6 separate regions of the Homo sapiens genome follow, and all the other regions are linked to region 5. Evidence: fine-mapped expression QTL. A gene starts in region 5. Each other region holds a variant in brackets. All regions are shown on one strand. Distances are between the middles of the regions.

Evidence for each region. PIP is the estimated chance that this variant, and not a neighbour inherited with it, causes the effect. A credible set is the group of variants that fine-mapping cannot tell apart.
Region 1: its variant is the best candidate, but not a certain one, in a credible set for the expression of SRGAP3 in macrophages (Alasoo 2018, PIP 0.67).
Region 2: its variant is the best candidate, but not a certain one, in a credible set for the expression of SRGAP3 in naive CD8 T cells (Schmiedel 2018, PIP 0.56).
Region 3: its variant is the best candidate, but not a certain one, in a credible set for the expression of SRGAP3 in subcutaneous fat (GTEx, PIP 0.62).
Region 4: its variant is the best candidate, but not a certain one, in a credible set for the expression of SRGAP3 in monocytes after Pam3CSK4 (Quach 2016, PIP 0.89).
Region 6: its variant is the best candidate, but not a certain one, in a credible set for the expression of SRGAP3 in sun-exposed skin (GTEx, PIP 0.55).

What each region holds. Positions count from the first base shown.
Region 1 is chr3:9,097,643-9,102,886 of GRCh38, forward strand. The region is part of intron 3 of SRGAP3 (SLIT-ROBO Rho GTPase activating protein 3); the gene reads right to left. Among named protein-coding and RNA genes, the nearest start is that of SRGAP3-AS2, 92 kb to the right of the region's middle. The variant T/C (reference allele first, on the strand shown) is at 2,589.
Region 2 is chr3:9,268,353-9,273,596 of GRCh38, forward strand. It overlaps a transcript of SRGAP3 not described here. Among named protein-coding and RNA genes, the nearest start is that of SRGAP3-AS4, 21 kb to the left of the region's middle. The variant C/T (reference allele first, on the strand shown) is at 2,500.
Region 3 is chr3:9,107,652-9,112,895 of GRCh38, forward strand. The region is part of intron 2 of SRGAP3 (SLIT-ROBO Rho GTPase activating protein 3); the gene reads right to left. Among named protein-coding and RNA genes, the nearest start is that of SRGAP3-AS2, 82 kb to the right of the region's middle. The variant T/C (reference allele first, on the strand shown) is at 2,027.
Region 4 is chr3:9,077,610-9,082,853 of GRCh38, forward strand. It overlaps SRGAP3 (SLIT-ROBO Rho GTPase activating protein 3), which reads right to left. Exons shown (of 22, transcript NM_014850.4): 4 at 2,416-2,478. Among named protein-coding and RNA genes, the nearest start is that of SRGAP3-AS2, 110 kb to the right of the region's middle. RefSeq lists an enhancer at 74-574. The variant G/A (reference allele first, on the strand shown) is at 2,778.
Region 5 is chr3:9,247,392-9,252,635 of GRCh38, forward strand. SRGAP3 (SLIT-ROBO Rho GTPase activating protein 3) reads right to left here and starts at 2,255. Exons shown (of 22, transcript NM_014850.4): 1 at 1,494-2,255. The coding sequence starts at 1,560. It overlaps SRGAP3-AS4 (SRGAP3 antisense RNA 4), which reads left to right and starts at 2,365. Exons shown (of 3, transcript NR_146969.1): 1 at 2,365-2,430. RefSeq lists an enhancer at 2,034-2,273.
Region 6 is chr3:9,167,116-9,172,359 of GRCh38, forward strand. The region is part of intron 1 of SRGAP3 (SLIT-ROBO Rho GTPase activating protein 3); the gene reads right to left. Among named protein-coding and RNA genes, the nearest start is that of SRGAP3-AS2, 23 kb to the right of the region's middle. RefSeq lists an enhancer at 953-1,002. The variant T/C (reference allele first, on the strand shown) is at 2,160.

The sequences.
Region 1 (5,244 bases), 150 kb before region 5:
AGATCCCCTTCGGGCCTGGGGAACGTATTCCCCCAGCTGCAGGAAAGTGCTGCCAATGGACTCCCTCAGATGTCAGCTGCTTTGGAACTGCCTTGGCTGCACAGGCATCATCTGCTCAAGCCCACAGCCTCTTTTAGAGGGAGCCCACATCCAATGACTACCCAACAGGAGGGTTTAAAGGCTCAGCCTCCTCGCTGTAGCTCAGGACAACTCTGAAGGGCCATCCCAGCTCCCCAGCATCCTTAAGACTGCACCACAGTCCGACTTCTCGGTTTGCTAACTCCTACTTTCCTCCCTTTTTTTCTGCAGGAGGGAATCCCAAGTATCCTCCCTGATACACCCCTGCACCGAAATACAGTCTCAGAGCTGGCTTCCCAGGGAACCCTGGTGATAGATCCTAATTATTTGAGGCTCGCTTCAAATGCTGCTTCCCCCACCTCTAACCTTACCCAAACCTCCCCCTCCCAGGTTAGAAGTTCTCCCTCTGAACAAACTTCTGTGGTGATAACCATCCCTCTCTGCTGTATCTGAATGAGTTACCGCTTCACACCTGTCTCTGCTTTCAGACTGCACTGGAAGCTCCTTGAGGGAGAGGAGGACATTGTGTCTGAGTCGTTTATCTAACTACTTCACTTTGTTTTAATTAATTTTTTTGAGACAAGGTCTCACTCTGTCACCCAGTGCAATGCAGTGATCACAGCTCACAGCAGCTTCAACTTCCTGGACTCAAATGATCCTCCTGCCTCAACCTCCCGAGTAGCTGGGACCACAGGCAAATGCCACCACGCCTGGATAATTTACCTTTTGTAGAGACAAGGTGTCCCTGTTTTCCAGGCTGGTCTCAAACATCTGAGCTCAAGCGATCCTCCCCCTCAACCTCCCAAAGTGCTGGGATCACAGGTGTGAGCCACTGCACCTGACTCTATCTTCTTTGGCACCTGCCTTTACCACTGAGTATGGGCTCTGGGATTGGACACATCTGGATTCAAACCCTAACCTCACCTTTCTTGGCATCAGTTTCCTCATCTGTAAAATGGGATAATGGCAGCATCTTCATCTTAGGTTTGAAGAGTTAAATGTGTATAGAATGCTTAGCCCAGAGCCTGGCACACTGCAGGCGTTTGCTCACTGTTTGTTATCTATAATTATTGTTTACCTACTGTCATGCTAGTGCTAATATATGTTTATTAAATGAGTTGGGAGTGCCTGATGATGACCGGCTTAGCAGGCTCTACTGGCAGAGTGACCGTTCGCGACTTCATCTCCCTGGGAGACGGTGGAGATTGGCTGAAGGCGCCTCATCCCTTGGCAGGGTGCCCACTCTGCTCTCTCCCTCCTCCTTCCCCATGCAGGCCTCATAGCTGGACCCTCCAGCATGCAAACACTCACTCCACTCTCTCATGCAACCAAAAAATAAAAAATAAACTTGGCTTTGAATCCAAGGCCAGTGGGTGCTTTTGATCTCGGTTACAAAGCAAGGCAATTATTGAACACAAAAAGCCCTGATTTATTTATAAAATGCGATGGACATCTTCGAGGCGGGAACGAGAAAACTCACTCAAGACCAAGTCCTTGTTGCCACACAGTGAATGGCTGCTTTCAAACACAAGCCCCCCACATGGCCTCGCTTCTCTGCAAAGAGTCTTTCCTCATTAGTGCTTCCTCCCAACACCACAGCTTCCAACCATCAAATTCACATCACGGCCGGGGCAAGTAATTAAATTCCACAGGCATCAGAGCATAGAATAATGGATGGCTATTGTTAAGGAAGCTGAAGAAAACAGAATGAGGCTGGAAATGGAATGGGCTTCAATACCCAGTTTCAGAAACGGTTAGCGGGGAGCAGGAGAGCAAGTGGGATGCAGACTGACCCTCCCACCTGGTGCAGCACATGGGATAGTGGCTTTAGTCCTGGAGCTGGAGGTGAAAACCTGAGTTTGGAGCCAGACTCTGCATTTGCCAAACATGAGCCTCAGTTTCCTCATCTGTGAAATGAGGAGGTTGGACTAGGAGTCATTCTCCATGTATGGTCCCCAGACCAGAAGCATGAGTATCACCTGGGAATATGCTAGAAATGCAGGTTCTCAGGCCCCACCTTAAACCTACTGAATCGGAAACTGTGGGGCTGGGGCCCAGCAGTCTGCATTTAATAAAGCCTCCAGGTGATCCTGATGCATGCTAGATTTTAAGAACCGCAGTGAGGTAATGTTTAAAGACAAGGCCAAATACTCAAATGCACAAAGGGCCAGAGAGGCAAAATCAAGGAGCCAAGTAAGGTAAAATACGCCAGCAGGGTCAGTGGAGTGGCAGAGACAGCGTGCCTAGGCTGACGGGGCTGGCAGCCACTCAGCTACCGCTAGCTGATGCCACGTGTGAGTCCATGTGGGGCTGGTATAGTCAAAGCTTCTGATTTTGCAAGAGAAACACAAAATCGTGATTTTGGGAGAAATCTTTAAATGTTTAAATGTCAACTTAATCTTTCTTAACATAGTAAGGGCCAAGAAGATTATACGTCAGAGCCAAACTCAGTTGTGCACTGCCATTTTTCAGCCTCTGTTCTGAGTTTTTTCCTTCGACCTCCATCACCA[T/C]AAACTCTACCCACTGGCTCTTACCTTTCTCCAGACCCTGAACTCCCAACCTCCTTTCCCCATTCAGCAGGCTCTTATTCATCCGTCAACACCCAACTCCAGGGGCACTTCCACTGTGAATTTATTCTCAACTCTTTGCCCCACTTTCCACCTCTCACTAAGAAGACAGAGAAGAAGCAAACAGGAGGCCAAAGAATTGACACACAGAAGGTGACACCGAGGAGGAAGACATGGAGAAGTTACAAAACAGCCTTTTCCCACAGAGGAGGAATTAGGACCTCTTGGCAGTTACCCTCCTGCTGCTTGAAAAATCACTCAAATAAGGACACCGATCCCATTTGACCAGAATCTAACAAAATGAAGTTTTAGAAGGGTAAATATGAAGAAACACAAAAGCAGAAGTCAAAGGCTGCATTAAAAAACAATTGGTACAAAAATACAAGGGACTTTTTGCTGACTGAGAGTTCACTGTGTCAATCATGTGGTAAAACAATCATCAAAGCGGCAAACACCATCACGGGTCTTATGAGAAATAAAGTGTCTGGACAGCCCTGCTCTGCCCTGAGCTGCTCAGACCTTCCTAGAGTATTCCGACTGGTTCTGAATAGTAACTTCTGTAGGTCAGAGAAGACCTGAAGCATGACCCAGGCAGGGCGACTGATATGGGGACAGAAACACAAAGCCAAATTCCAGGAGGACGATGGAAGGAACCTGGGACATCTGCCCATAGGCAGGAAGGACCAGTGGATGGTCACGATTTCTGCCTTCAAGCAACTGACAGGTTTCCATGTGACAGGTTTGATCTGTTTGGCCCTCTAGGGATGATCAGGACCTGTGAGTGAAAACACTACAAGATTCCATTTCGGCATTCGGGAGAATTTTCTATTGATCACGGATGTTCCCACATGGAATGAGCTATCCTGAGAGGTAAGGAGCGTTCTTTATTGAGGGACATCTAGCAGAGGCGTACAGCTGCTGTAGAGGATGATAAAAGGGCTGGAAAAGAGAGTCCAGTGGCCATCTCCTGTTTTATTTCTCCCTTCTTCTTGTAAAGGCACCCCTACTTTTCTTGGGGAACCACCCCTCACCCATTCTCAGTCCCATGGGTCAGGTGGAACTGAGTGTGCATCTGGCTTCAGGGATGGGTATGTGTCCCGGCCTGGCGAGGCAGAGCCCTGCAGCGCCCCAGCCACAGACGCAGCACCCGGTGTGCTCACGTGACCCGTGCTGGACCAATCACAGACCAAAATATCCCATTCTGGGAAAAGGGACTTGAAGCAGAGAGGATGTAGGTCTGGAGATGCCAGGGGCCCTCTGGTTATCACACGGCCAGCGGGTGGGGCTGACTGTAAAAGAGCCCCTCGCCTCCCCACAAAAAACGGGAAACAGAGAAAACTGGAGCAGAGTTGCCGAAAGAGTTGCAGAAAGACAGAGTTCTAGTAACATCCTTTGTTCCTCTGAAGCCCCGCATGCCCGAAGCCAGGCTTATAACTAGTAAGGTCCCTTTTTCTCTTAAAGAGGGGCAAGCTGCATTTCTGCTGTCTGCCACCATAAGAGTCCTGATCACTAACGATGGCCTCCTGGATCTCATTCAGTTTAATTTTGCTAGGGCTGATCCACATCTCACACTTAAAGCAAGGGCCACGTGCAGGGGCTTCTGGAATTTGAAGTGCTCCTCTAGTCATAAGAACAGACTCCACTGCAAAAGGGGAAATGGAGAATCATGAAAAGGTAAGTTATTAAGTCAAACCACCTCCCGCATCAGTGAGAAGCTGGCAGGCAGGGCAGCTGCCCAGGCCCAAGCCAGAAGATAGGCACAGGACAGACACCTGGCCTAGAAGCCGCTCCCATCTCCCGCAGCCTCACTGCCAGACTGTGGCTTGGTAGAGCCCTAGGACCCCAGCTCAGACATGGGGAGTGGTTTCTATTCTTAGGGATCACTGGCAAGCTACCATTTAATAAGCACCTACTGGATACCAGGCCTGGGCTGGACACTTGGCTCACCTCTGCATATTAAAGCGGCCCCCTGTGAAGTTGGCATTGTTACCAGCTCCATTTCCCAGATGACAAAACTGAGACTCAGAGAGACTTGCCCAGGGTGCAGTGATAGGCAGTTCTGAGACAAACTCCAAAAGCCCAGCCACTCCGCCTCCTGCTGGTAATGACAAGGGGCCCAAAGCAACCAAGTCTGGGTTCTCCTTGCAGCCTCCCAACGCTTTACTTCCTCACCTGTAAAATGAGGTGAGTGAGGATCCCCAGTCTGACCAGAGAGCAGCCTCCATAGTTGCTTTGAGGTCTGCGGGAACTATTATTATGTAAAGAGTGCCGGCCTCCATTCCGAAATTAGGTGTAACTGATGCAACACAAAGGGGCCGTGCTGTGCAAAGTCAGCCAGCCAGGCTCCGTCCGCGCCTCTCTCCAAAGCCCCTGTGGGCTGGGTTGTTTCCTTTGTTCCACAGGCACAGGCCTGGTAACAAGGCAGCCAGGAGCTCAGCTGTAGACATTTTTTTCATTATTTTCCACCCTGTTAACCTCCATCACAAGTCAGGCTGCTGTCAGCCTAAATGAGAACTGAAAAGATTTATCTCACTTGTCCCAGGGCTCAGCTCAGGAAAAAAGACCCTTCATTTCCTAAAGGCCTTGATGACCCTTTCTC
Region 2 (5,244 bases), 21 kb after region 5:
CTCTCTGCCATATGAGGACACAGTAAGGAGGCAATTGTCTATAAACCAGGAAGAGACAGCCTTCACCAGAACCTAGCTGGCCTCTAAATTCCGACTGAGAGGCTCCAAAGTTGTAACAAAAGAAATGTCTGCTGTTTAAGCCACCCAGTCTATGGCATCTTGTTTTAGAAGCCTGGGGAGACTAAGACAGCATCATTCTAGTTAAGCCTTCATATGAGACCTCAGCACCAGGCACCAGCCAACACATCAAAAGCAGTCTTGTAAGAGACCCACAAGCCGAGGACCCAGGTAAGGCAAACCTGGATTCCTGATCCACAAAAACTCTGAGATAACAAATGTGTGGGTTTTTTCAAGCTGCTAAGTTTAAGGGTAATTTGGTACACAGCAATCAATAACTGATACATCACACGACCCGTAAGAACCTCAGCTCTGATTGTAAATCAGGTCACACTGGCCCCAGAACCCACTCATTTTTGCACTACGTCACACTGCATTTCATGTTCTCTTCCTTCCTTTTCCCCAGAAGTTCTGATATAGGTGCCTCTTGCTCCCTGAGACATCCAACGCTGTCCCTTTTCCTACTGCCCTGTCCACTGTGAAGAAGAACAAAACCTTGCCTGCTCCAGGAGGCAGCACCACAGAGTGGAAAGACGGCAGAATTTGGAGTTAGGTGATTAGGATTGGAATCTCAGTGTTGGCCGGAACACGCCCACTGTGTGACCTTGGGCAAGTCACTTCCCCAATCTCTGGGTGCTCACAGGTCATATCTTGAAAGGTCATTTCTTGCAGGATGAATAGAAAGCCTTTGTGTGGAAGGCTATACTCTGGGGATGATTGTGGATAAAGTCCCTTCTCCTCTTTCAGCCTAACAAATGTCATCTGAAAACAAGAAGAGTCAATAGGCACTTCCCAAGGAGGACCAAAGTCAGGCCTGCCAGTCTGGAGTCCACTAGTGGACACAGTGCTCCCCGGCAGTGCTGTATTATGAGGCAAGAGAAGGGGTCCTTGTTCTACCACAACCAAGGACCCAGACAGTGTCTCCTGCAGAGCCACATAGTGATCTTTCCTTCAGGATGTCTCCCCTGAAACTGGCACATCCATGTCCACCCACCTAGACTCCTCAAGACCAATTCTTATTTGGGAACCACAAGTGCCAGCCTTCTGTGTTATTTGCCTGGACAAAGTTCTTATTCACCTGCTATAAATGAGACAAGGTTTATTTGTAAGTCTTCCCAGATACAATTGAACCTCTCCACCCAGAAACATTTCCAGCATCCTCATGCTGTGTGGGGATGAGAGGGAGTAAGGAGGCCTTTCACAAATGTGGTCAGGCTGGGAAACAGTTATCCCAAGAGAGGGCAAAAGGCCAATCAGGCCATATCTACCCTGATTTCTACACTTAAATACCACACCAGTTTTTCCTAGTCTGAATAAATTAACTCATTACCTGTCATGGCATAGTAATGTTTCTAATAAGGTGTCATATGAAAAAGTAGAATACAAAAATGTGGCAAGGAAGGAAGAAAGGGAGGGACAGAGGGAGGAAGGGAAAAGGAAGGAAGGAAGGAAGGAGGAAGGGAGGGAGGGAGGAAATCATAAGGAAACGGTTCTCAAATACTGATGTGTCAGGAACATCTGGAGGGCTTCTTAAACCACATGGCTAGTCTACACCCCCAGAGTTTCTGATTTAGTAGATCTGGGGTGGGGCTGAAAATTTTGCTTTCTGGGTTCTGCTGACATTGCTAGTCTGGAGACTAGACTTTGAGAACCACTGTAAGAAAATATACCAAAATTCAGTGGACACCTATAGGAAATGGGTCTGAGCACAGTTGTTTTGAAGGCTGCATAATATTAATCTGTATTGTGTAATATTGATAATAAAAGTATACATATTTTATAATTAGAAAAAACACATTAGTAGTATTATGGAAAGAAAAAAGTCAATCTTTACATATATGTGTATCAAAAGAGTCAATCCTCTCTGCTTCCTTTAATGTAAAATTCAAAAACAGACAACACTAATCCATGGCGATAGAAATCAGAACAATAGTGGCCTATGGGGGTGGAGATTGACCAGAAAGGGTCCCAAGGGAACCATCTGGAGTAATGGAAATGTTTACCTTGACTGGGGTGGTAGTTACCCAAGTGCATACGCTTATCAAAACTAATCGACTTGTGCATTTAATATCCCTGTTTCTCTCTATCAAATTTAACTCATTTAAAAAAACTCACTGTGATCAGCAAAAGAAGTATCACTTTTATATACATACACATAATACAAATATTATATACACACATATACACAATACCTATAATCATAAGTGTGTAAAATTGATGAGTACAGATGGATATTGACCAGACAATAACACAGCAAGTGAAAACAAGTAATTCAGAAGGGAGGTGGGAGTTTCATCCTTCTTTTTTCCATTTTTACTGTTATTATTTAAGCAAGAGATTTTTTTTTTTAAGTCAATTCCTGTTTATGCTTCTGGTACTGTT[C/T]TGTGCTGCCTTTCCCGGAAATGCCTTACCTCTGGTACCAATAACCGCTGAAGACAAAAGCAGAAGACTGGTACAGCATGTATGTGTATGCTGTGCTGCCCAGATCCCCCTGCAGAGGATTTTTGTTTTGTTTTTCTTTCATTGCCTGGGCTTTTGGACTAAGGCTCACACTCCCTCAAATGCCTAAAGTGTTGGCTATCAGCCGGGCCCAGTGGCTCGTGACTGTAATCCCAACACTTTGGGAGGCCAAGGCGGGCAGATCACTTGAGGCCAGGAGTTCAAGACAGCCTGGAAAACATGGCAAAACCCCGTTTCTACCTGAAAGTACAAAACTTAGCCAGGCCTGGTGGCATGCGCCTGTAATCCCAGCTACCTGGGAGGCTGAGGCACAAGAATCGCTTGAACCAGGGAGGCAGAGGTTGCAGTGAGCCAAGATCACACCACCGCACTCCAGCCTGGGCAATAGAGCGAGACCCTGTCTCAAAAAAATAAATAAATAAAGTGTTGGCTATTGAGGTCTCATGGCTAAAACACTCCTCAAGCACTGTCCTGAGCCAAGGAGCATTATCTCACCCCAGATCATTCTCCCTCCCCAGGACAGCCTATGTCCGAGACCATGGGGCAGAGGATCCCACCCCCTTACCTCCCTGTGGATAATTCAGAAGGACCCTCCCGGTTTCAGAACTTCCCATGGGATTGGCTGAGGCCTCTTCCAAGCCTGCCACCCTCACTCCCTCACAGTTGTTGTTGCTGAGAGGTGTCTCATAAACCTGTGCACAGATCTCCACTTTGGGGTCTGTTCTCCAGGGAACCCAACTTAGGAAAATTAGCTTCCCCATTGAACATAAAGTGCCCCATTAATAAGATGAAAAACCCTACAGCCAAAGCATGATGCACTAAGAAAAAAGCACAGCGTGGCAGAGGATGTAGCAAAGAAGCAGTAATTTACACCTCTGTCCTGTCTCAAGAATGAATGAACAAATAGGTACCCTGCACCTATCTCTATCTTTTATGGCATTTCTCACATTGTCATCACAACAGAAGATAATGTGCATGGAAGGTCTGAGACCTGCTCCATTCTGGAATTATAGTCGTTCTGGAATATGGCTATCTTAATAACAAAAGACCACAACGATCAAACTAAAGTCATATGACCTGCCAAAACAGATGAATGTCCAAAACCGGTTACAACTTCAGTTGCTACAAATCTGTTGCAATGTTTGGACATTGTCCACTACAACCTGCCTTTACTGGGCAGCTAGGACCTTACCCACAGGTCATTCACAGCCCCCTGGATTGCACCATCCCTTCGTAGTAGAAAATGTTGTCAGTCGTTACGGTGGTGTGATTTTTAAGTGAGTAATCACTTTTTAAAGTTTTTTAAATTTCTAAAACTTGTGGTAAAATACACACAAGATCTACCATCTCAATCATTTTTAAGTGTACAGGTCTTTGGCATTAAGCCATTCACATTGTTGTGCAGCCAGCACCACCATCCATCTCAGGAACTTTTTCATCATCCCAAACTGAAACTCTGGATCCCCTAAACTTCCCATCCTTCCTACCCCAGCTCCTGGTAGCCTCCATTCTACTTTCTGTTTCCATGAATTTGACTACTCTAGGTATTTCATACAAGTATGGAATCTTACAGTATTCGTCTTTTTGTGACTCGCTTATTTCACTCAGCACAATGTTCATAAGGTTCATCCATGTGGTAGCATGGGTCAGAGTTTCCTTCCTCTTTAAGGATGAATAATATTCTAATGTATATATGTATCAAGTTTTAAAACAAAATTTGATACATCAATGGACACTTGAGTTGCTTTTACCTTTTGGCTATTATGAGTAATACTGCTATGAATATTGGTATAACTATTTGTTGGAGTCTCTGCTTTTAATTATTTTTTGTATATACCTAGAAGTGAAATTACTGGATCATATAATAATTCTGTTTATTTTTTTTTTAGGAACTTAAGTACTTTTTTCCACAGTAGCTGCTCCATTTTATATTCACACTAACAATACACAAGAGTTTCAATTTCTCCACTTCCTCACTAACACTTATTATTTTGGGGGCAGGGGAGTGTCTATTTGTTTGTTTTGGATAGTACCCATCCTAATGGGTGTAAGGTTGTATCTTATTGCAGTGGTTCCCAACCTTTTTGGCACCAGGGACGGGTTTCACGGAAGACAACTTTTCCAAGGACGAGGTTGCAAGGAGATGGTTTTGGGATTAAACTGTTCCACCTCAGATCATCAGGTATTAGTTAGATTCTGATAAGGGGCACGCAACCTGGATCCCTCACATGTGCAGTTCACAATAGGGTTTGCGCTCCTATGAGAATCTGATGCCATGGCTGATCTGATAGGAGGTGGAGCTTGGGTGGTAATGCTCACTCACCAGCCAGTCACCTTCTGCTCTGCGGCCCAGTTCCTAACAGGGGTTAGAGAACCCTGTCTTATTGTGGTTTTAATTTTCATTTCCCTATTAATTTGTGATGTTGAGCATCTTTTCATGTGCTTATTGGACATTTATGTATCTTCTTTCAAAAAATGTCTATCCAAGTCCTTTGCCAAATTTTTGATCCAGTCGTTTGTTTTTGTCATTGCTGAGTTTTAGGAGTTCTTTATATAAGCCAGATATTAACCCCTCTCAGACATAAGATTTGCAAATATCTTCCCCACTCCATGATTGCCTTTTCACTCTGATTATGTCCTTTGATGCACAAAAGTTTTAAATTTTGA
Region 3 (5,244 bases), 140 kb before region 5:
AGTTCTCAGGGCAGCCCCAGACTACGTGTACTCAGAAGCCCTAGGGCTGGGCCCAGAATCTGTGTTTTAACAAACTCTCAAGGTGATTTGGATGCATACTCAAGTTACAGAACTTCTACCTTAAGGAGTTTCCATCCCTCCCCCTCACCCTACTGTGAGCTCTTTGAGAGCAGGGATCACTTCTATTGTGTCATCACGTCCAGCACCCAGCAATGTGCCTGCCATGTAGCAGATGCTATGGAAGAGAGACCCATGAAAAAAGACTGCATTTGTGCTGGGTCTTGAAGGATGGGTAGGAGTTTTCCAAATGGTCAGAAGTCAGAGAGAGGATGGAATTGTGGGTAGAAGGACCAGTGGGTACAAATATAGTGAAGTAGCTCAGAAGAGCTGGAATTCTGAGTGTGTTAGTGGAGGACTGTAGGACATGAGGCTGGGGATACAGATTAAAGGCCCAATGTTGGGGGAGACTGCCAGACTAAGGGGGTGGGACCCCTTATCTTCTAGACCACATAGTTCTCAACCTGTCCTGTACACTAGAATCAACTGGGGAGCTTTTAAAAAAACACCAAGACCCAGGACCCATCCAAGACAAAATCAGAATCTCTGGGGGTAGCGCGTGGTACTCATATTTTTATACTCTCTAGAAGATTCTAATGTGCAGCCAGGGTTAAGAATGCCTGCTTTAGGCCGGGTGCAGTGGCTCGTGCCTGAGTCCCAGGGCTTTGGGAGGCTGAGGTAGGAGGATCACTTGAGTCCAGGAGTTCAAGACCAGCCTGGGCAACATAGCAAGACTCCGTCTCTACAAAAAATTTAAAAATTAGCTGGGCATAGTGGCACACACCCGTAGTCCTAGTTACTTGGGAGACTGAGGTGGGAGGATCACTGGAGCCCGGGAGGTGGAAGCTGCAGTGAGCTATGATCATGCCACTGCACTCCAGCCTGAGTAATAGGCAAGACCCAGTTTCTAAAATAAATAAGAATGTCTGCTATGGGCAGTGGGGAGTCATGGAAGTTATTTCAGCAGAGGTAGGATATAACCAACATGTGTTTTGGCATGATCATGGAAGGCAGATTGGAGGATGAAGGGATGGATGGGTAGGTGGGTGGGTGGATGAGCAGGGATATGGGGCTTTTGGTAAGAGGACCAGGCAGGAGGTAATCTTAGTTCAAAAGAGAAATAGTGAGGCCTGGGTGTGGTCTTGTAGCCAGCGAAGGATGGACTTGAGAGATTTCTCAACAGGAGAGCAGATCCTCTTGGAAACTTCCTGGAAAACAGCAGAAAGAGGAGGAAGGAGCAGACAGTGATTCCGAGGCTCAGATCTTAGGCGACTGGGTAGATGCTGATGACATGAACTGAGATAAGAACTGCAAGGGGAGCAGTAGGTTTGGACAGAAAATGCATTGCTTATCTCATTTTCACTGCTTCCTAGGTGGTGATGGAAATGGAAAGATTAAAGGAGAGATGAGATAATTGAGCTGTTACCTAAATTACTTCAGGGGCTTAGCTGAACCTGGGAGGCAAGAAGTGAACAGCACCAGGGAATTAAATTGTGCAAAATTATGGAAGCCACAGCCAGAAGGTGAGTTTCAGAGGGAAGGAAAAAGACAACTGATCTGGAACTGATGGGGAATTGCTGGGACAGTTTGGGGACCATTAACTAGGTCATCTAGCCAGAGAGATGAGATGAGAGGAAGGGCAGAGAGCACAGCGCTGTCCTTATCAGAAGCTGCAAGCCAGGAGGCAGTGCGGTATAAGACAGAATTGCAGGAGGCAGAGCGAGCCAAGGCAAGGAGGAGGATGTTACCCGAAAGCAGCCAAAGACTCAAGTTGAAGTGAGCAGCTGCTGTGAAGATTCCTTCCAGCCCTCGTTCACTCCTTGCGTTTGTGTGTCTGTGCTGGGCAGGACTAGGTGCTGCGAGTGCAGGAGCAACCAAGGCTGCAAGACCCTGCCCTGCAAGTCTTCCACTTGAGTAAGGAGATTCACAAGGAACAGAAAGTGATGAGGCAGCCTCATCAGTGCAGTCA[T/C]GGGAAGGAGGCTATGGAGCAGAGAGGAGCCTCCTTCCCCAGATCTGGTGGTGAGGTTGGTCATGCATGGCTTCCTGGAGGAAACGCTTTCTAGACTGAGAACTAAAAGCCGGACTGGAGTTTCACAGGGAGGAGCCTTCAAAGGGGAGAAATGTGATGAGCAAAGGCCCAGGGAGGAGCAGGAGAGGGAGGAGCAGGTAGGGAGGGGGCCCAAGCATGGTGTTTTGGGGTAGGAGAGTGAGGACAGCAGGTGAACATGGAGACTGAGGCAGGGGCCACTTGGGAAAGGGCCTTTAACTCTCATTAGAGTTCAAGCTCCGTCCTGAGGTCAGCAGGCAGACCTTGAAGGGTTTACAGAAGGGGAGTGAAAGGGTAAAACTGCACTTTCAAACTCTCACTCTGGCTGCTGTACAGAGCCAGGGGCCGGGAGAGAAACTGAGGGATTCAAGAAAGGCTTAGGTAGGAAATTGACTGGACAGGGAGATTGACGGGATGGAGTTAGGGCTGGAAGTTGAGAGAGAGCAAAAGATGTCCAGGATGACTCTCCAGTTTTTGGTTTGGGCACCTGGGGGAGTAGAAGGAGCCTCTGTGGAGATGAAGAGGAGCAGGTCAAGGGTGGGGCGGGGAGGGAGGATGATGAGTTCGAGTCGAACACGACGAGTCTAAAAGGCTGTGGGGCATCCAGATGGAGCTATCTGGGCTGGAGAGACAAACATGGAAGCCAGCAGCAAGGAGTTGGATGCTATTTAAAACCACAGAACAACAAGGAAGGCTTTACAAATGCTGTGGCCACATGGCAGAAGAGGTCAATCCCCGGGAAGCATGGCAAGGCTGTGGCCGGAGGGCTGGGGCAGGGCCAAGCCGCGGTGGCGCCTCCCCTCCTGCTTCCCTAAAAGAGGGCAAGATGGGGCAATGTGCAGCCTGGCCTCCTCTGAGATGCTGTCCCAGGCCTGCCGTCCGATCAGCGGCCCATTCTCTAGGTCCATCCCAGCATGGGAAACTGCTGGGTCTGCACCCCCACCTTCTCCCAGCCCTGGCTCCCTCCTGTGGGGCAGGTCATTTGTAGTCTAAAAGGCTGGGGTGAACTGTCCACAGCCAGGGTCAAGAGCTGCTCTGTAGAAAGCTAGCATGTGTGGCCTTGGCCACAATGGTACCAGGCAGGCTCTACCACATCTGAAAGAAGAAGGCCCACAGGTGGGACTCAGCACAGCAGTAGAGAACAGAAAGCCACCTGGACGTGGGCATGGGTGTTCACCGGCGTCTGCCATGCTAGCTGTGGACTCCGGGCAGGCCACCTATTCCCTGTAGCCTGGCCACTCACACCATGGAGTCACTCTGGGCTTAAATGCCAGAAGAGAGCTCTGCAGTCATTCTTCAGCAGTTCATGCATTCCATACATTTTTGTTGAATATTTTGTATAGATCAGACCCCAGGGACACAACCTTGAGCCCAACAGACACAGTTCCTGCCTTCATGGAGCAGACAGTCTGGTGAAGAGACAGACACCTACCATGAGCCCACGAATGTGGGTAGAGTTAGAAGTGCAGAATGTGCTGGAACAGAGGGGAGCCTGTGCCATGAGTGCCTGTAATAAGGGGGCTGGCCTGATTTGTGGGTCACTAAAGTGTCCCCAAGGAAGAGGTCATTAAGCTGTGCTCCAAAGGAAGAGTTGGAGGGCGCTAGTGAAAGGGGCTGGGCAGGTGGGCTGGCGGGAGAAGGCTCTAGGCAGAGGGAACAGAATGGGCAAAGGCGCCTCAGGGCGGAGAGCCTGGTGCATTTAAGGAACTAAGTAAAGAACAGCCTGGCTGGAGTGGGAGGCAAGGCAGAGGAGGAAGAGGGTGAAGAGTGAGGCTGGAGGGGCCTGCAGGGTCTCACACACTCCATCCTGCCCCCATCTGGCTCACAATGGGACTGCAGGAGGGAGGAAGCACGAGGGCCGCAGACCGCAGAGCCAGACGCCAGGCTGCAGAAAACTTGAGCCTCTGCCTTCCCTGTTCCTGGGGTTGTTTGCCCCTTTGGAAAGTGGAACCCCTTTGACCTGAGATCCAGCTCTCTGTGCCAGCAGCCACTTTTGTCTTCTGCAGCCTCATTTTTGGAAGACATCAGAATGAATGAGGGCCAGTGCCCTCGGCCAAGGCACTCAGAGTGACCCTTCCGCTTCTCCAATCTTTCATGCAAGCGTCGACCCAGCAAGCAGAAGCTGCTGAACTAAGACATCACGTTAGAAATTTTGCATATGTATGTATCTATTTTCTTTTTTTATGGCCAGAAAATAGCAATGAACATTTCTGGTGAGTCACAGCTTTCTTTCTTTGGCTAGGGGATCTGGATATGAGGTTCCAGGAGACTGCAGCTAGGGGAGCCAGGCCTTGCCAAGCTAGTGAGTTGGGAAAATGAAATTAGCAGTGAGCCAGTTTCTCCAGCTTCTCGGCTGAGGGCCGGAAAATTCCGCTTAGCAAACAAAACCCATTTCCAAGCTTGCAGAGTCCCATGTTCCAGATGAATCCAAAGCCACTGCCCTGGGATCAGGGTCCCTCTGGGAGGAAGGCAAGCTCCTGCTTGGGCTTCCTGCCCCGTTCCAGGACCTTCTCAGGCCTCACACTGGGCTTGCGTCCGAGAAATGCTAACTCAATCAGTTCTGTGGCCAGAAAGGTGCATTTAACCTCCTGCTACCTAAGCTGCCCCAAGCAGGATTCAGCATTCATTGCACTTGCTTGTAGCATGAATCATTAATTCAGCCAATAGTAAGTGTGTGCCTGTTCTGTGCCAGGCAATGGTAAGCAAAATGAGCCACACTTCCCACTTCGTGGAGCTTACAGTCTAGTGGGGGTCTCAGATAACAATCAGATAATCACAAAAATCAATAGAAAATGGCAGCGGGAAGAAGGGCTCTGAAGGAGAAATACATGGAGCCTGGAGAGTCTTTAACAGGGGGCTGCCCTCTCCTGGGGAAGGCGGAGGGGAGGGAGCATCAGGGGACCCTGGGGTCCTTCTCATCACTGAGACCTGAGCTGAGCTATTTCTCCTCCTGGATGCCTCCCTGGCCACCCACACACCCTATGTCACACTATGTCATTGTCATTACAGCACTCCACACCTGATGCTTGTTGTGTTCTTTTCCTTTTTGCTTCTGGTCTTTGTCCCCTCTCTAGCTTATGTCTGTCCTACTCATCAGTGCTTCTCTGGTGCCCAGGCCAACCTGGGCACACAGGCACTCT
Region 4 (5,244 bases), 170 kb before region 5:
CATGGCTTGTCCTGTTGGGGCCTCAGCCACCCTGCCTGGCCTGTGTCTCCAATACCAGCGGCATTTCTGTCCAGCCATCCTGCCCTGCAGCCAGCACAGGGAGGTGTGCATGGAGCACCTGCTGGATTCAGGCCACTGTGCTGGGCACTGGGACCTTGAAGGACACAGAGAGATGCCACTGTCCTCCTGATCTCTGACCATCACCTGGCCTTGTCCAGTCTACAAACCACAGAAAGGTGACCATCCCTGTTTGTCACAGGTGAAACTGACAAGTGAAGGGACTTGCCCAAGGCCACACAGCTGGGTTCAAATGGAGCCTTTGGGCCTTTCATGCAGTGTTTCTCAGCCAAGACCTGACTCCCAGGGAGTTTATACTCCAACATGTTGGGAGACGGGATATAGACAATAAAGATACAAGAGATTTTGGTACATCTGCCATAGGAACTTGAAGCCGAGAGGTAATAACATTCTGAAGGTGGCGAGGTTTGGTCTGAGTTTGAAAAATGAGCATGACACTAACAGGTAGGTATAGACAGCAGGGATTGCAGGGAAAAAGCAGCAGAGGGGGAAGGTATTTGGTGTAAATAGAGGGCACCAAGAAGAGGAGCCCCGCTGGAGGTCACAGCAAAAGTAAGAGACCTAGGTGGGAATGAATGGGGGGGTCCCAGGACATTGGGGCTAAGTTGTTTTGACACTGTGGAGGAAAGTGATCCATTCAAAGTGGAGCCTGAGGAACATAAAAAGGACCTAGACTGGGGAGCACCTGGTCTAGCCAAACTCGCTGCAGAATTCTGAGCACGACAATCCCATTCGGTTTACCAGGCTTGCATTATTTATCACCACCCTTCCCCCCACCGTGAGTATGTACAACAGCCTACCTCACACCCATCAAGGAGGAGCCAATGATAGTGATGATGATGATAGTGACACTCAGAACTTCTGGTACAGAATGCTCTTTTTTTCTCTATGTTCTAAGCATCCATTGCATACAGGATCTCCTCGAATTCTCACAGGGACGTGCACTAAGCAGGTACTAGTATTTCTACTTAACACCTGGATTTGAACCCAGATCTCTGGCTTCAAAATCTGTGCCTTAACCCAGCAGGCTGTTCTGCCCCCCAGTGACCAGCTGATGCAAAGCAATATGCATTCTCAAGCAGCAATTCTTCCTTTACCCTAAGAATGACTCAACTAAAAACTACCCACAACTCAAGTTTTGCTTCTTAATTTGGAATCACAGAATTAAAAGTTTCAACTTTTATCTAAGAACTCTCAGCCCCGTTTTACTGATTGGGAGACTGAGGCCCAGGAAAAAAAATGCCTTGCCTAGAGTTCCGTAGCTTGTTGGGATCTGAGGCAGGCTTTCTGACCTGAGGTCCAGGCCCTCCCGCAAAGGCTCTCAGTGCCTCTGAGGAATTTACCACCTGCTGGCCACACAGGATATAAACACAGAAAGATAATAAAACCAAACAGAAGGGGCTTCTCACAGACTGCTGTTCTTTCCCCTCATACCAGGGATTTTCAAATACAATTTTACCAGCAGATTCTCCCCAACACACAAACAAACACACTTTTCATGAAATGCTATATAGGGCACCTATCTATTTAAAACATAACCATTCTTCTCTGTTCTGATTGGGTAGGATTGAGGGGCCTGGAGCTCTACCTGCTGGGTCTACCCACCCCACTCCCCATATCTCTCCATGGGGTCCCCACATTCCTCTTGAGGAAGCCGTAGGCTCCTCAAAGCACAGTCTGAAAGTTCCTGCATCATCACCTCATGTGTTTGTGTCCCCATTTGCTCACCTTCTTGGATTCTAAAACTCATCTCAAGCACAGTTAGATGTTGACTCCAAGCAGGTAACAAAGTCAGCCGTGGACCACACTGTGATGTTATGAAACTATGCCTTGGAGATGGCAATGCAGGCTCACCCCATGACCTCCCGTGATCCTCGGAACCGTGCTCCATTTTGCAGATGCACAGACTGAGACCCAGACAAACTGCCCACCTGCCTATGGTCCTACAGTTGGTAAGGAGGGGCCTCTGCTGGAGCCTGTGCTGCCTCACTCCAAAACTCACATCCCTGCCTTCAGGAGCCTTCACACTCACACTCCCCCGGCCTTGACTTTGTGCCCTCTGTTCTTGCAGGTAACACGCCCCACAGCGGCAGGTCGTTTGAATCTCTCGTGAATTTTGACAAACTAGACAAGCCCAGGCCCTGCCCCAGATGTACAGAATCAGAAGCTGGGGCTGTGAGTCATTACATCCTGACACGATGACCCACTGTCACTCAGCATAAAACGCAGCAAAAAAGGCCTGGGGTCATTCCAGACCTCTGTTTTGCTTCCCTCCAGCTCTGGTGATGAAGACAGAGACCCAATCCCAAAACAGCAGTGAGCCTGGGCAGAACTTACTGTGTAGAGCTCATTGGTCACCTTCAGGAGCTCCTCGTGCATCTGCAGGCCAATCTCCTTGCTCTGGAATGTGGAAGAACAAATGTCAGCGGGGGAGAAGTTTGCTGGCTACATTTACCAATCTCTTTTCAAAAGCGAAAGGTCAGGAATGTTTCGGGTGGGGTCAGAAGGGGTACAGAAATCAGCATAAATTTCATTGATCTACAACAACATAAATTCCTCAACTATGTCCATGAAACAAACCCACAGAGAGAGGTTCCTTGCAGATGGGATTCCCTGATCATATGAGTTGGAGAACCCTACACATCATTTCCCTACCACAGTGACTCACAGTGACAGTAGCATATTAAAGATGTGGGGAA[G/A]CCCCACAGAATTTTTCTTTAATTCTACGTGTACTAAGCTGGTATGACCAGGGTCTGAGCTCCTTGCACAATCCTCATGAATGGCTACAGAGTGGGGTTCCATAGAACACACTTTGAGAAACAATGATTTGGCATCCCAATTCCTCTTGAGAGTAAATGATAATTCTCAAGTCCTCCAGGAAAAATCTCAGGTCCTCCAGAATATGAGTCCCCAGCCTCCAGGCCACAGATCAGTCCATGGCCCACTAAGAACCAGGCCACACAGCAGGAGGTGAGCGGTGGGTGAGCGGGCATTACCATCTGAGCTCCTGTCAGATCAGTGGTGGCATTAGATTCTCATACGTCCTCGAACCCTGGTGTGAACTGCGCATGTGGGGGATCTAGGTTGCACGCTCCTTATGAAAATCTAATGCAGGATGATCTGTCACTGTCTCCCATCACCCCCAGATGAAACCATGTAGTTGCAGGAAAACAAGCTCAGGGCTCAGGGCTCAAACTGATTCTACATTACAGTGAGTTGCATAATTATTTCATTATATATTACAATGCAATAATACAGAAATGAAATACACAATAAATATAATGTGCTTCAATCATCCCGAAACCATCGCCCCACCCTGGTCCATGGAAAAATTGTCTTCCACAAAACTGGTCCCTGGTGCAAAAAAGGTTGGGGACCACTGCTCCAGAAGATGTTTCCTGAAGGCTTGTCTTCCTTGACTGAGAATCAGCAGCTGGCACCCACTTGGACATCGCCTTCCTAGCTTTCAAGGACTGGTTACAACAGATGCCCTAACCTTAGTTTGACTCCAAATTTCAGCTCAGCCCTCCCCAGTGCTGGTCCCCTGGTCTGCCTAATCTCATCTTACCATTGCCTAGATCCTGACACAGTCGCAAGTCCACACTCTCAAGATGTCTCTTCCAATGAGGAACAGGAGAAGTACAGGTTGGCAGAAAGGCCTCTGGGGCACAAGGCAAAAGATCTAGCTTCTCATTTCCACTGTTGGCTGTGTGGCCTTGGAGAATCACTTCCCCCTTTGAGCCTCAGCTACCTCACCTATCAAATAAAAAGCTTAAACTAAAACAATACTTTCCAAAGCATGGTCTGAAGATCACTGCTAGATGCTATGCTAAAAAGGGGGAGCAGGGGCTTCTAAGACTACATGCATTTGAGAAAAAGCTAATTGAACAAAGGTAGACAAGTTTTCTTAATGCAGGACTTCTCAGTGCCTTTCATGTCCTTCCTTGCATGGAGACTTTCTAAGAAGGAGGTATAGTCTGTAGTTTCATTGACCACAGTCCTATTTCCATGAAGTGGCTTTCATGATATTTAAGGACACAATTCAGAAAACAATGAGAAAATTATCTCTAGGTTCCATGCAGCTTGAAGAGTCTAGAATTCTTTGTTATTTTATTTATGATTGTGATTATGATTTTGGTAAATATTCTCTGCTATAATCTGAATGTTTGTGTCTCCCTCAAAATTCCTATTTTGAAATCCTAACCCCCAATGTGATGGTATTAGGAGGTGACGTCTTTGGGAGGTGATTAGGTCATAAGGGTGGAGCCCTCAGGAATGGGATTAGTGCCTGATATGGTTTGAACCTCTGTTCCTGCCAAATCTCATGCTGAAATGTAATTCTCAGCATTGGAGGCAGAGCCTGGCAGGAGATGTTTGCATCATGGGGGTGAACGGCTCAGTGACATCCCCTTGGTGTATTCTGAAGTGTGTGGCACCTGCGCCTCTCACTCTCTCTCTGTTGCTCCCACTCCTGCCTTGTGAAATGCCTGCTCCACCCTCACCTTCTACCATGATTGGAAGCTTCCTGAGATCTCACCAGGAGCAGATGCCTGTGCTATGCTTCCTGTACAGCCTGCAGAACTGTGAGCCAATTAAACCTCTTTTCTTTACAAATTACCCGGCCTCAGGTATTCCTTTACAGCAATGTAAGAACAGACTAATACAATGCCCTTAAAGAGACCCAAGACAGCTACCTTGCCCCTTCCACCATGTGAAGACACAGCAAGAGATTGCCCTCTATGAACCAGGAAGCAAGCTCTCACCAGACATCAAATCTGTCAGTGTCTTGCTCTTAGACTTCCCAGCCTCTAGAACTGTGAGAAATACATTTCTGTTGTTTATAAGTCACCCAGTCTACGGTATTTTGTTATAGACACCTAAAAGGACCAAGACATTCTCCCTGTTTGCCAAGACCATCGTGTTGAGTTTCTGTATCGAAAATGGGAGCCGTGATCTTGGCTCCCTGAGCAGCTGCAGCCTCCTGCTCTTCCTCCCAGTTCCTTCAGCCTCATAGCTGGACCAGCTGCTAATGGGCAAAGAACAGCCTTCCTCTCACCCTTGCAGAGGTGAGAAGCCTCTGAATCCAGTGGTAGCTCATGAAGGCTTAATATCAGAATGATGCCTTCTCAGGCTCCTTCTCCTCACCCCCCACAGCCCTTTCTCTCA
Region 5 (5,244 bases):
GCCCTAGGATATGCCCAGAGGTGATGAGCACGCTGGGCTTTTGACCAGGACTAAAAGGCAAAAAGACTGTTGGTGAGACTGGAAAAAAAACAGATCCCTCCCCCCGTGGCTGCTCCACTCCCAAAGTTTCCCAAGCATCTGAAGCGTGTATGGCAGCTGCGGTGCCCAGCCTTCCCGCTGCTTTTAAGGAGGCCACCCAGCTCCCTGGGTCATTGGGTCTTCAGTTGCAGCAGCGCCCAGAAGCAGGTGTGGCAACCTCAGGTTGCTTGAGCCCCAAATACCCAACTTGCTCAACAGCCTGTGCATAACCTCAAAGATAGGCCTCAAGGTCCGCTGAAGATGCATTTTGTCTTTACTCTTTCTAGGAGAGGCCACAACACACCCTGTGTCGCAGCAAGGAGAACCATGACCAGAAAGAAAGCGGACGCCAAGAGGCACGAGCCCAGGCTTCCCACAGGGCACATCCTCAGAGAAAGGAGGAGCCTGCTGGATGGAGCTTTTAGATTTTCCTTGCCAAAGCTGAGCCTAGAACGTGTAGGGGTGGGAGAAGCCCCAGTCTGGCCTGAATGAGGATGCGGCAAGCCCGCATTTAGCCATGCAATTGTGTTCCCTTTCCTATTTCGCCTGGCTAGCGTGGATTTAGGGAGCGGCTTCTGAAAGAAGTATACACCCGGTGGCACAGAAGGTGCAACCAGCAGCCAGAGGTCATCTCGCCCTCCCGGCAGGCTTCTCCTGGAACCCCGGAAGCCAGGCAGCGCTGACCAGCCCAAACGGCATGCCGAGGTGTTGGCTTTGAATGAAAGCTGATGAACCTAAACGCCAGGGCACAGAGTGATTGGGCTGCACACTGCGAGATAATACATTTTCTGCACCAAGCTCCCTTTTTATGCCCAAATGCCTGCATTAGTCTGGATCAATATGCCCCATAACAGTTAATCCATGGCAACCCAGGCCAGCCCAGAGACACCGACAAAGAAGTGCCGCCCAGGGATGCTGCCTCGCTGTGCACATGCATGTGAATTCCGGCCCAGAGAAAGAGGCGGAGGCAAAACCACCACCACCAACAGAAACCAAAAAGGGGGAGGAAAAAAAGAGCAGATGGTAAAAAAATACCCCAATATTAAAGGGCTTTTACCATGGCAGGGAAGGGGTGGAGGTAGTGACTATCAAAATGGCCTTAGAGTGACATGTCACCGCCAAGATGATGGGGTATCAGCGACACTCCTAAAGTCAGGCATAGGATCCTCCTCACACACCTGCAATGCAGAGACTGCTGCCCATTCCATAATCCACACTCCCAGCCCCAGCGCTATCTGCAGTTGAAACCAGTCCGGACTTGTGCGGCTGCCACTGTTACTCCTCACAAAAAGATTATTGATGCATAACATTTCATAATGGCAGAGAGGAAAACGGGGGGCAGCGGGGGATGGGAACCAGAACAAGAGAAAAACGAAAGGGGAGGAGAAGGAAAACTCTCCCAGCCCGCATCTCACCTTTTATTTGGGCTTCATATTCAGCAATGATCTCTTTGTCTTTCTTGAACTTAGTTTGAGATGACATCTTCTGACGTGGCCAAAGGAACTGACAGGCTGTTTGATTTATTTCTCCTTTTCTTTTCGAGTCCTCTCTCAAGCCCTGGTAATCACACAGCTCTGGTCGATTTCACAGGTTTAGGGACTAATCTCTTTCACTTGGCTGCAGAGCAGGGAGAAAAATCCTTCTCCTTCTGGAAGGAAAAATCTCTTTACTTGCCGAGAAATGGCTCTAGTAGCTTGCCCTGGTCAGCTCCTCTTGCAAAAGAAGAATCACCCTAGGAGCACAGTAACCTGCCCCAGATTTTCAAAGATTTTTCTTCCAAAAATAATAATAATAGTAATAACCAAGCGCACTCACACACACATGCACACGTACACACACTCACGCATGCACAGGCACACTCACCGGGACACGCACACAGTTGTGCTGTGCACACAGGCATACACACACACACCCTCACACGCACACACACTCGCTGGATCACTCACACACACACATCCACGAGAGGCGCGGCGCCTCTTTGGTCGTGCAGCCAGCCCCTGGCTTGCTTTTGAAGGCTCTGCTAAGTCGATGGTCAGGTTGCCAAAGGGCCGGTCATCTCGCATCCTCCCTCCCTTCGGTGCCTCTGGTCTGATGTCCAGTGAGGATCAAAGCCAGGAGAGCGAGATGGAAGTTTTCCTGCTGCAACGCTTAAGCTCCGGTGAACACAAGGCTGGACTGCTCGCCCTGCAGGGCTGGCTGAGCTCTCCCCCACTGCTCACGTCACTAGACTCCGCCTCCCGGATTTTATAACAACTGACACATTGTAGCCTACAGGAGAGCAGAACTCACTGCAAGCAAAAAGGGGAAGAAACGCTCACAAAAGGGAAGGCAGCAGGAAAAGTAATCGGGTTGGTAAGTCTTGAGAGGCTTCTGCAAACTCCAAACATTAGCACTTGGGTTAGGGATTTTTCTTCCAAAAACTTAAGATCCTCCCTTTTTTTGCACTGTGCAATTTAATTCAGTTTCTGGAATCAACAGCTATATGATGGTTTGTCACTCTACTGGGATAGTCTAGCAGAGGGCCTGACCCATGTAGGGAAAAGCATCAATATTTGTTGAGCAGTTACTTGGTGGCAGAGACGATGCGAGGAGTTAAAGGCATGCAGCTTAGCAAAGCCACGCAGAGCAGGCACACTGGAGGCAGAACAGCTGGGTGGGTCATTGGCTTGTGGGGCTCTGGGCAAATTCATAAGTCAGACTGAGCCTCAGTTTCCTAGATAGTAAAATCAGCTCTCTTTGGAGGCTATGTTATTCATTCTTTCAACAGATATTTACTGAATGCTTACTATAGGTCTAGCACCGTTCTGGGTACAGGGATACAGCAATGATCAGAACTGGCACACACAAAAATCCCTGACCTTCTGAAGCTCCCGGGGCTCCACATCACACAACTCCAGCAGTTTCCACCATTCATGCTAATATTCTTAGTAAAAAGCACCCCTGGAGTAGAAAGCATTGTGAATGGTGCCCCCTGGAGTTGTACGAGGCAAGAGGCCCTGGGAGAGGAAGACCAAAAATAAGCACAGTAAGTATATTATATAATATCATACAAAATGTAAAGTGCTATGGGAAAAAATATTGCAGGGTAAGGAACATCGGGAATGAGAGGAGCTCTTGAAAAGATCAAAGAAAAATGCAAAGCTAAGCTTAGCACAGTCTCTGGTGCATAGCAAGCACTCAATAAACAGTAGCAACTGTTATTACCCTTTTATATCCCCCAACAACCTAACAACATAGGTATAAGCACCACTCTTTCACAGACAAAGGAGCAGAGGCTCAGATATGGGAAGTGACTTACCCAAGGTCACCAGCCTTCCAACCCAGGCTCAAAGTCTCCTGCATTCTACAAGGGAGACCAAACCCATTTCATGTGGAATTAAGGTAGAATAAGATTCATTCTGTAAAAACTGAGTCAAGCACTAAAGAGTCGCTGATCACTGGAATTTCATATGCTAAGATTGTCACTAATGTGTATTGGCCCCTGACTGTCCCCTGAGATAAATGTTCCCAAATTTCTCAAAATAGGTATAGTCTTCCATTTGCCTTTTTCTGAGTCTATAATAAATGATTCTGTTTGGACTCAGAAATGAATAGGTTATCCATGCTAGTCCATCAAGGCTTCCTAGAGGACATGGCAGCTGCAGTGGGCGTCCCCAGGCAAGTATGGCAAAGGGAGTGAGGCGGGGCAGGATGTTCTCCTGGAGCACACAGCATGAGCTGGGGCCCACAGGTGGCAAAGCACAAGACCTGCTTGGAGCAACGACAGGGAGAAGTCCAACTGGTGAATCATGGGGCTTATTATAGCCTTGTACCCGGAGGCAGGAGGTCACCAGTTCAGAAATAGATGCCACTGGCCCGCAGCCCTTGCCATCACCCCACTGCCTCACGCCTCCCCTGGACATGTTCAGGCCCTTTGCTGTCCTCTTCTAACTAGTTCAAACCCACAAAAGCCCCACGTTACCTGAGAAAGATGGGCACAGAGATTAACATCCCTGCTGCAAGTCTAGATTCTTCAAGAAAAATGAAAGTTAAAACCATACACCTTGGAGTACGACAGACTGGATCCTCTCCTGGCTCTGCCACGAGCCTTGAGCTCATGAGAACTTGAGCAAGTGGCTCAACCTGCTTGTGTGCCCACTGGTGGCAGGAACTCAGTAAATGTCAGCTATTTTCACCATTATTAAAATTTTAAATCCACAAATAGTTCTAGGAGACCTATGTGTAGGGTGCTGAGCCATGGAAATGTCACAAAAATGTCACAAAAAGCCATACAAAACCAAGGCCAAAGATGGTATAGCGCTCTGAGCTGACACCTGGCAGAGGCTGGGTTTTGGAGTAAGTCAGATGGTGGTTTACCTTCTGGCTCTGCTGTGCACCAGCTGTGTGTGGGGCTCATGGAGGAATACACCTTCTCTGAGTCTTGGTTTCCTCATCTGTCATAGGGTAGTGATCCACCCATGGCACAGGATCCAACACGATCATGGATTTAAAGTGCCTGGCATAGAGCAGAAGTCTCACAGACATAATTTCTTTTTTAGAGCTGTGGAAATGTGTTCTTCAACGTTGGAGGTGGGATCTGGTGGGCAGTGTTTGGATCATGGGGATGGATCCCTCAGGAATGGCTTGGTGTCCACCCCACGGTAATGGGTTCACAAGAGATCTGGTTGATGAAGAGTCTGGGACCTCGCTCCTCTTCCTTGCTTCCTCACTCACCATGTGATATGCCTGCACCTTCCACCATGATTGGAAGCTTCCTGAGGCCTCATCAGAAGCCAAGCAGATGCTGGTGTTATGCTGGTATAGCCTGCAGAACCATGAGCCAAATAAAACTTTTTTTTTTCTCAAGATGGGGGTCTCACCATGTTGGGCAGGCTGGTCTCAAGCAATTCTCCCACCTCAGCCTCCCGAAGTACTGGGATTGCAGAGTGAGCCACCACACCCAACCAAATAAAACTTTTTTCTTTAATTACCCAGCCCCAGGTATTCCTTTACAGCAATGCAAAATGGACTAATACAGGGCCCAGCCAAGCCAGACCTAGGACTAGAGCTTGGTCTCCACAGATACCCAGATTGGGAAAAGGAAGAGAGGAAAAAAAAGAGGAAAAGGTCTGTGTCCCCTGAAAAATCCATCACCACACACAATAAACCCACATCATCTGGAATCTT
Region 6 (5,244 bases), 80 kb before region 5:
TCAGCAGAAGCTCACCTGTGACAGCAATTCTCCTGGGCAGGAGAAAGGGGGAGGATTGATCCTCCAGGGCTGAGGGTGGTCCTGCAGTGGCTTTTTCAGCCTCCATCCTACCTGCCCTCACTATAGCCTTGCCTTGACTGCTCACTCTCCCCACAATTCCAATTTGGATCAAGACACAGAGGCCCTGACTCATCCTGCTGGTTTCCCCTCACTGCCTCTTCACTCTCTCTCTCATTCTCCATTGCTAGTTCCCTTCTGTACTTACACATTTGACATTTGCTGCTTCCCAGGAGTCATTTATCTTCCTCTTCTCTACCTATGTTCCCCTGCAGCAACCCTCCCCAGGCCTATGCCTCACTTTGCACACATGCTGACATGCCCACATCCATGGCCCATCCACTGACCTTGCTCCTAAATTCTGGGAGCTGAATTCCCTGCTGTCAACGCCTAGGGGGGGAGCAGGAAGTTGGGACCGCATTCCTTTCCCAAGCCCCTAGCTTTTGGCCAGCTCTGTCCTTGGGATGTGCTGGTTTTAAGAAACATCCCCAGATGTCCAGGGTGCAACTTCAGGAAGGAGGAGAATCCAGCTCCTAAACTCTACTCTGCAGCATCTGCTGAAGGCCATCAACTCATCCCACTTCAGATTGAAAGCAAAAGCTATTTTCTCTACTTCTACACAAGAGCCCAGCCTAGATATCTTTCAGTCCTCAGCATGCCTCGCTGTTTTCTTCCCACCCTACTCCTCCCTCAAGACTGCCTCCAAGCGCACTCCATGGTGCATGCAGAAGCAGAAAATACCTCCAGGGAACTAAATCCACCTAATGACAAATAATGGTAGCTATAGCATTTGTACAGCCATTTCCAATTCACAAAGTGCTTTTTTCACAGACATTAGCTCCTTGATTCCCCACCACAAGTCTATGCGGTAGGTGACACTCTCCCCACTTCTGCAGGGCAGTAAAAGGAAACCCGGAGAGGTTAAGAGACACATCCAAGGGTATAACTAGCAAGTGGCAGCATGTCTTTGTCAACAGGAGTGCAACGAAGTCAGAAGTGAGGTCTAAAATGCAGTCTTGACTTAGCCCAATAGCCCATCAAAGACAGCCTGGCCCCAGGCCCTCTCCAGTCCTTTGCTTGGATCTGGACAAACTCAGACATTTCATCCTAAAGCCCCATTTTTGCCAGTGGCAGGAGCCCAACCATCGTCTCTGCTGTTAGCAACTGCTCCAAGTGTGCTCAGAAGTCACCTGATTGGTCAGAAGCAACCCCACCCCGCTCAGGACTGGAGCTGAGGCCCTGCAGGAGAATCTAGTGCACGTGTGCCCTCCCTCACTGAAACCAAGGCCCAGCACATCACGCATGAGCAGGATGTGCAGTTCCTGCAGCTGGTTTCAGAATGAATCCTTTGTTTCCATTCACCTGCGCTTTTTAACATCCGCTTAACAACTTTCAAAAGCCCAAAGGTGGCAGAATGAAATTACTTAGAATAAAAGACATTCCAAATGGAGACCTCTTTCTGGGTTTTCAGCCATCTTTTCGTACGTGCTTGGAGGCAAGCCAACTAAAAGATGTGTTTCTTAAACCAAGTAAGCTGTTAAGTAACAAACTGGTCCTGCAGATATGAGGAAAGAGAGAAGGGAGAAAAAGGAAAAACCTATTGATTCATAATCTCTCATTCATTCATTTTTTGGGCCCCTACTCAGCCAGACTGGCACAGAGTGGCAACATGAATATGCATATTTATATTCTGATATGTTACAGTGGTTAGGAGCATGAACCCTGGAGCCAGACCCTGTGGTGCCTCTCCAGGAGTTAGAGAAAGGTGTCCCTTCCTCCCAACAGTCACAGCTCTGCACCCAGGTGAGAGCAAGATTTCAGACTCAACTGATCCTTCCACCCTTGTGGACCCTTGTGCAGTGCATGGCCAGCACAACTGTACATGGTAGCACTGATTTCAATCCCGGCTCGTTCAGCTATTGTGTAACCCTGGGCAAGTTTCTGAGCCTCTCTGTGGATCTATCTGTTCATCTAGGAAATGAGGATAGTAATAGTATCTATCTTACAATATTGGGGAGCATGAAATAAAATAATGCACAGGAAGTGCTTAGCACAGAACCTGACTGCAAAGAAGCACTTTGTAAGTATGATTATAATCATTA[T/C]ATATGAGACATAGCCCCTGCCCTTGTGGAGTTGACAGTCTGGTGGGAGAGGCAGATTGTAAAAACATTATATCTGTTTATGTCCAGGGTTGGAGGTGGGGTAGCAGGACATGAGTGAGAAAACTGCTCTTGATGGGTGAGTAGGAATTCAAGCAGCAAAGAAAAGGTGGGCGTGGGAGGAAGACTATTCAAGGCTTTGAGAACAGTATGTACAAAGGTAGAGGAGTTACATGTCATTGCATGTTCCAGGAACAGTGAGAAGTTCCCACACTATTAACTACTAATTATGAATTTCTGCTAAGCTGAAATGCACAATAAGTGAGTAAATAATTCCCTCCAGTGCCAAACTTATGAGTCTCAACACTTGGGAAACTCAAAGTAGCCATACTTGGCATCAATTAGGCCAACACCTTGTGAAGTTGACAATGGCTTTGAATTAACCAATACCACATTTCTCAGGTTACTCCAGGACCTGGAATGTTATTGCTTGCTAGAGAATCACTAAATTGGAGTTCCCTCTGGTACAGAAGGAAGGGGATCAGTGCTTTCTGAAGGGGAGGATGGGTTAGGGGGGAAAAGCCTTGGAAGTCAGGGTTCCTGGGTTCCTGCCCCACTTTCTAGGCAAGTCATGGTCCCCTTTCCTGAGCCTCAGTTTCCTCTCCTGTAAAATGAAGGGGGCTGGGTTGGAGTTTCTTCCAACTGGGAGACAGTACACCTAACTGCTTACAGCCTGGACTTTAAAGTCAGACAAGCCTGTGTTGACATTTGTTAAGAGGACAAAATGAAGATTTAATCTATGTAAAGCACCTGACACCGCCCCACAGGAAGCACAGATGAAATGATAGAAGATTTGATCACTGCCGTTTAGACAGTGCTGGTGTGTGGGATGTGTGGGTGAATGTCCGTAGAAGAAACCGCCCCCAGTCTCACACCTCTCAAATCTACAAACCAAAACTCTTTGACACTTGGGAAGTTTTTGAGCCTGCCGAAGCCCTGCATCACGTCAGTGCAATGAACTCCATACACTTGAGACTTGGTAACATTGTCTTAGTATTTGGCTTGAATGAACTTTCTGTGTTTTTTTACGTGGAAAACACTCACATGACAGCCTCGGAGTAGTAGTGCGGGGAGCAGCGGGGTGGGGGCAAGAGGGTTCCAGGGGAAAGAAACTCTCCAGCAGCAAAAGAATGTGACTCACACTCTCACACAACAGAAGAGAGGCGACCTGAGCAGAGGTGGGCTGCTTTTTAGGAAGTCGCACTCAAATGGTCTTCATGGCTCCAAATGGGGAGAAGGTTTTAGCACACAGTCCCTGAAGACTCATGGACATTCCCGGTGGTTCTGATTGTGAATGATGCTGAAATCAACCATTGCAAAATACTCCCAGCATACCCTTTCCTCTGCACCTTCGCCCAGCGAGGCAGATGCTCTTATGGAGCTACTTCACAAGCGTGGGTCTGAGGCCCAAGGAGGTGAGGGCACATGCCCAGGTCACACACCACAGATACCTGCCCTCAGGCCTCGGACGCCACAGCTCAGCACTGCTCCTCTCCCCCAAGCCCTTCACTTGCTGGTGTGTAATGAGCACTGTCTCAGCGCTGGGGGAGCCATGAAGAGGCCTGGGTCACACAGTGTCCTCACGCTCCAGCCTGCTGGCAGAGCAAGGCCATGGGATTCAGGCCTGTTCTGTCCCTCAGCAGCAGGACAGCGCACGCATCTGAGGAGTGCTGATCCTGGCCTTGGGCAGTCAGCTTCCGCCAGCTGTGCCCTGCTATAGATGGCCTGACCCTTCAGGGCCTGGGCCCCACAACAGAATATTGTGGAAGAGAAACCCAAGAACCCCTGAGGCCCCAGCAGCCTCCACAGAGCCCCATGAGAACCTGAAAAAGTCCTGGAAACCTGAGGTCCCCTCTCCCTCACTACTGGAAAAGAATTAAGACAACGTGTTACTCCTTGGGCCCCAGGCAGAGGCCAAGCTGCCCTCGAAACATCCAATCTGCTCCAAGTTCAGAGGCAGCCTCCAGCGCATGGGAAGAGGGTGAGGCTGGGTCAGAGCCCTGCATTTAAATCCCCACTCTGCCACTTAAGACAATTCTGGAACATCTGTGCGCCTCAGTTCTCTCCTCTCCAAAATGGGAATGCCCACAGTGCTAACAGCACAGGATTGCCCTGAGGGTCAAGTGGGATAATAAATGAGAAGGACTTTTTTTGTGAACTGAAGCCCTATAAAAATAAGTGGGATTATGAGTCTTATTATCCCTCGCATGGTTCTACATGACTTGGAAGGACATCCAAGAGTTTCTCATCAGAACCTTATTAAAATTCTTATTAAAGTCTTATTAAAAGTTTTTTTATTATTATTAAAATCTTTGCCTGGATGCTTCAAAATAGCCCCTGTGTGCCCAAACTAAATATGATGTGAAGGAACCAGATAGCTAAAGTACACCAACCCATACTCAGAGGTGAGAGGCTCTGATGGGATCCAAATACTATATTCATTTCTGGGAGCTGGCCCAATAGCATCTCGGACTGAGTGACTTAAGCAGCCGAAATGTATTGCCTCGGTTCTGGGGGCCGGAAGAGGACACGGTGCTTGTCGGTGGGGTTGGTTCCTTCCAAGGCTGTGAGGGTGAATCTGTTCTATGCCTCTGTCCTGGCTTCTGGGGGCTGCCTGCAATGTGGCATTTCTCGTCTCCTGCCGTATCTCTGGATTCATGCTCCCATGGCCTTCTCCTTGTGTATGTCTGTCTCTATGTCCCAATTCTCCCTTTTTATTAGTTAGAATGGATTAGGGCCTTTCCAAATGACTTTTTCTTTTCTTTTTTTTTTTTTTTTTTGAGACAGGGTCTCGCTCTGTTGCCTAGGCTGGAATGCAGTGGTGCAGTCTCCACTCACTGCAACCTCCACCTCCTGGGCTCAAGCAGTCCTCCCACTTCGGCCTCCTGAGTAACTGGGACTACAGGCACATGCCACCATGCCCAGCTAATGGCTAATTTTTTTGTATTTTTTGTAGAGACAGGGTCTTACCATGTTTCCCAGGCTGGTCTTGAACTCCTGGACTCAAGTGATCTACCCACCTCAGCCT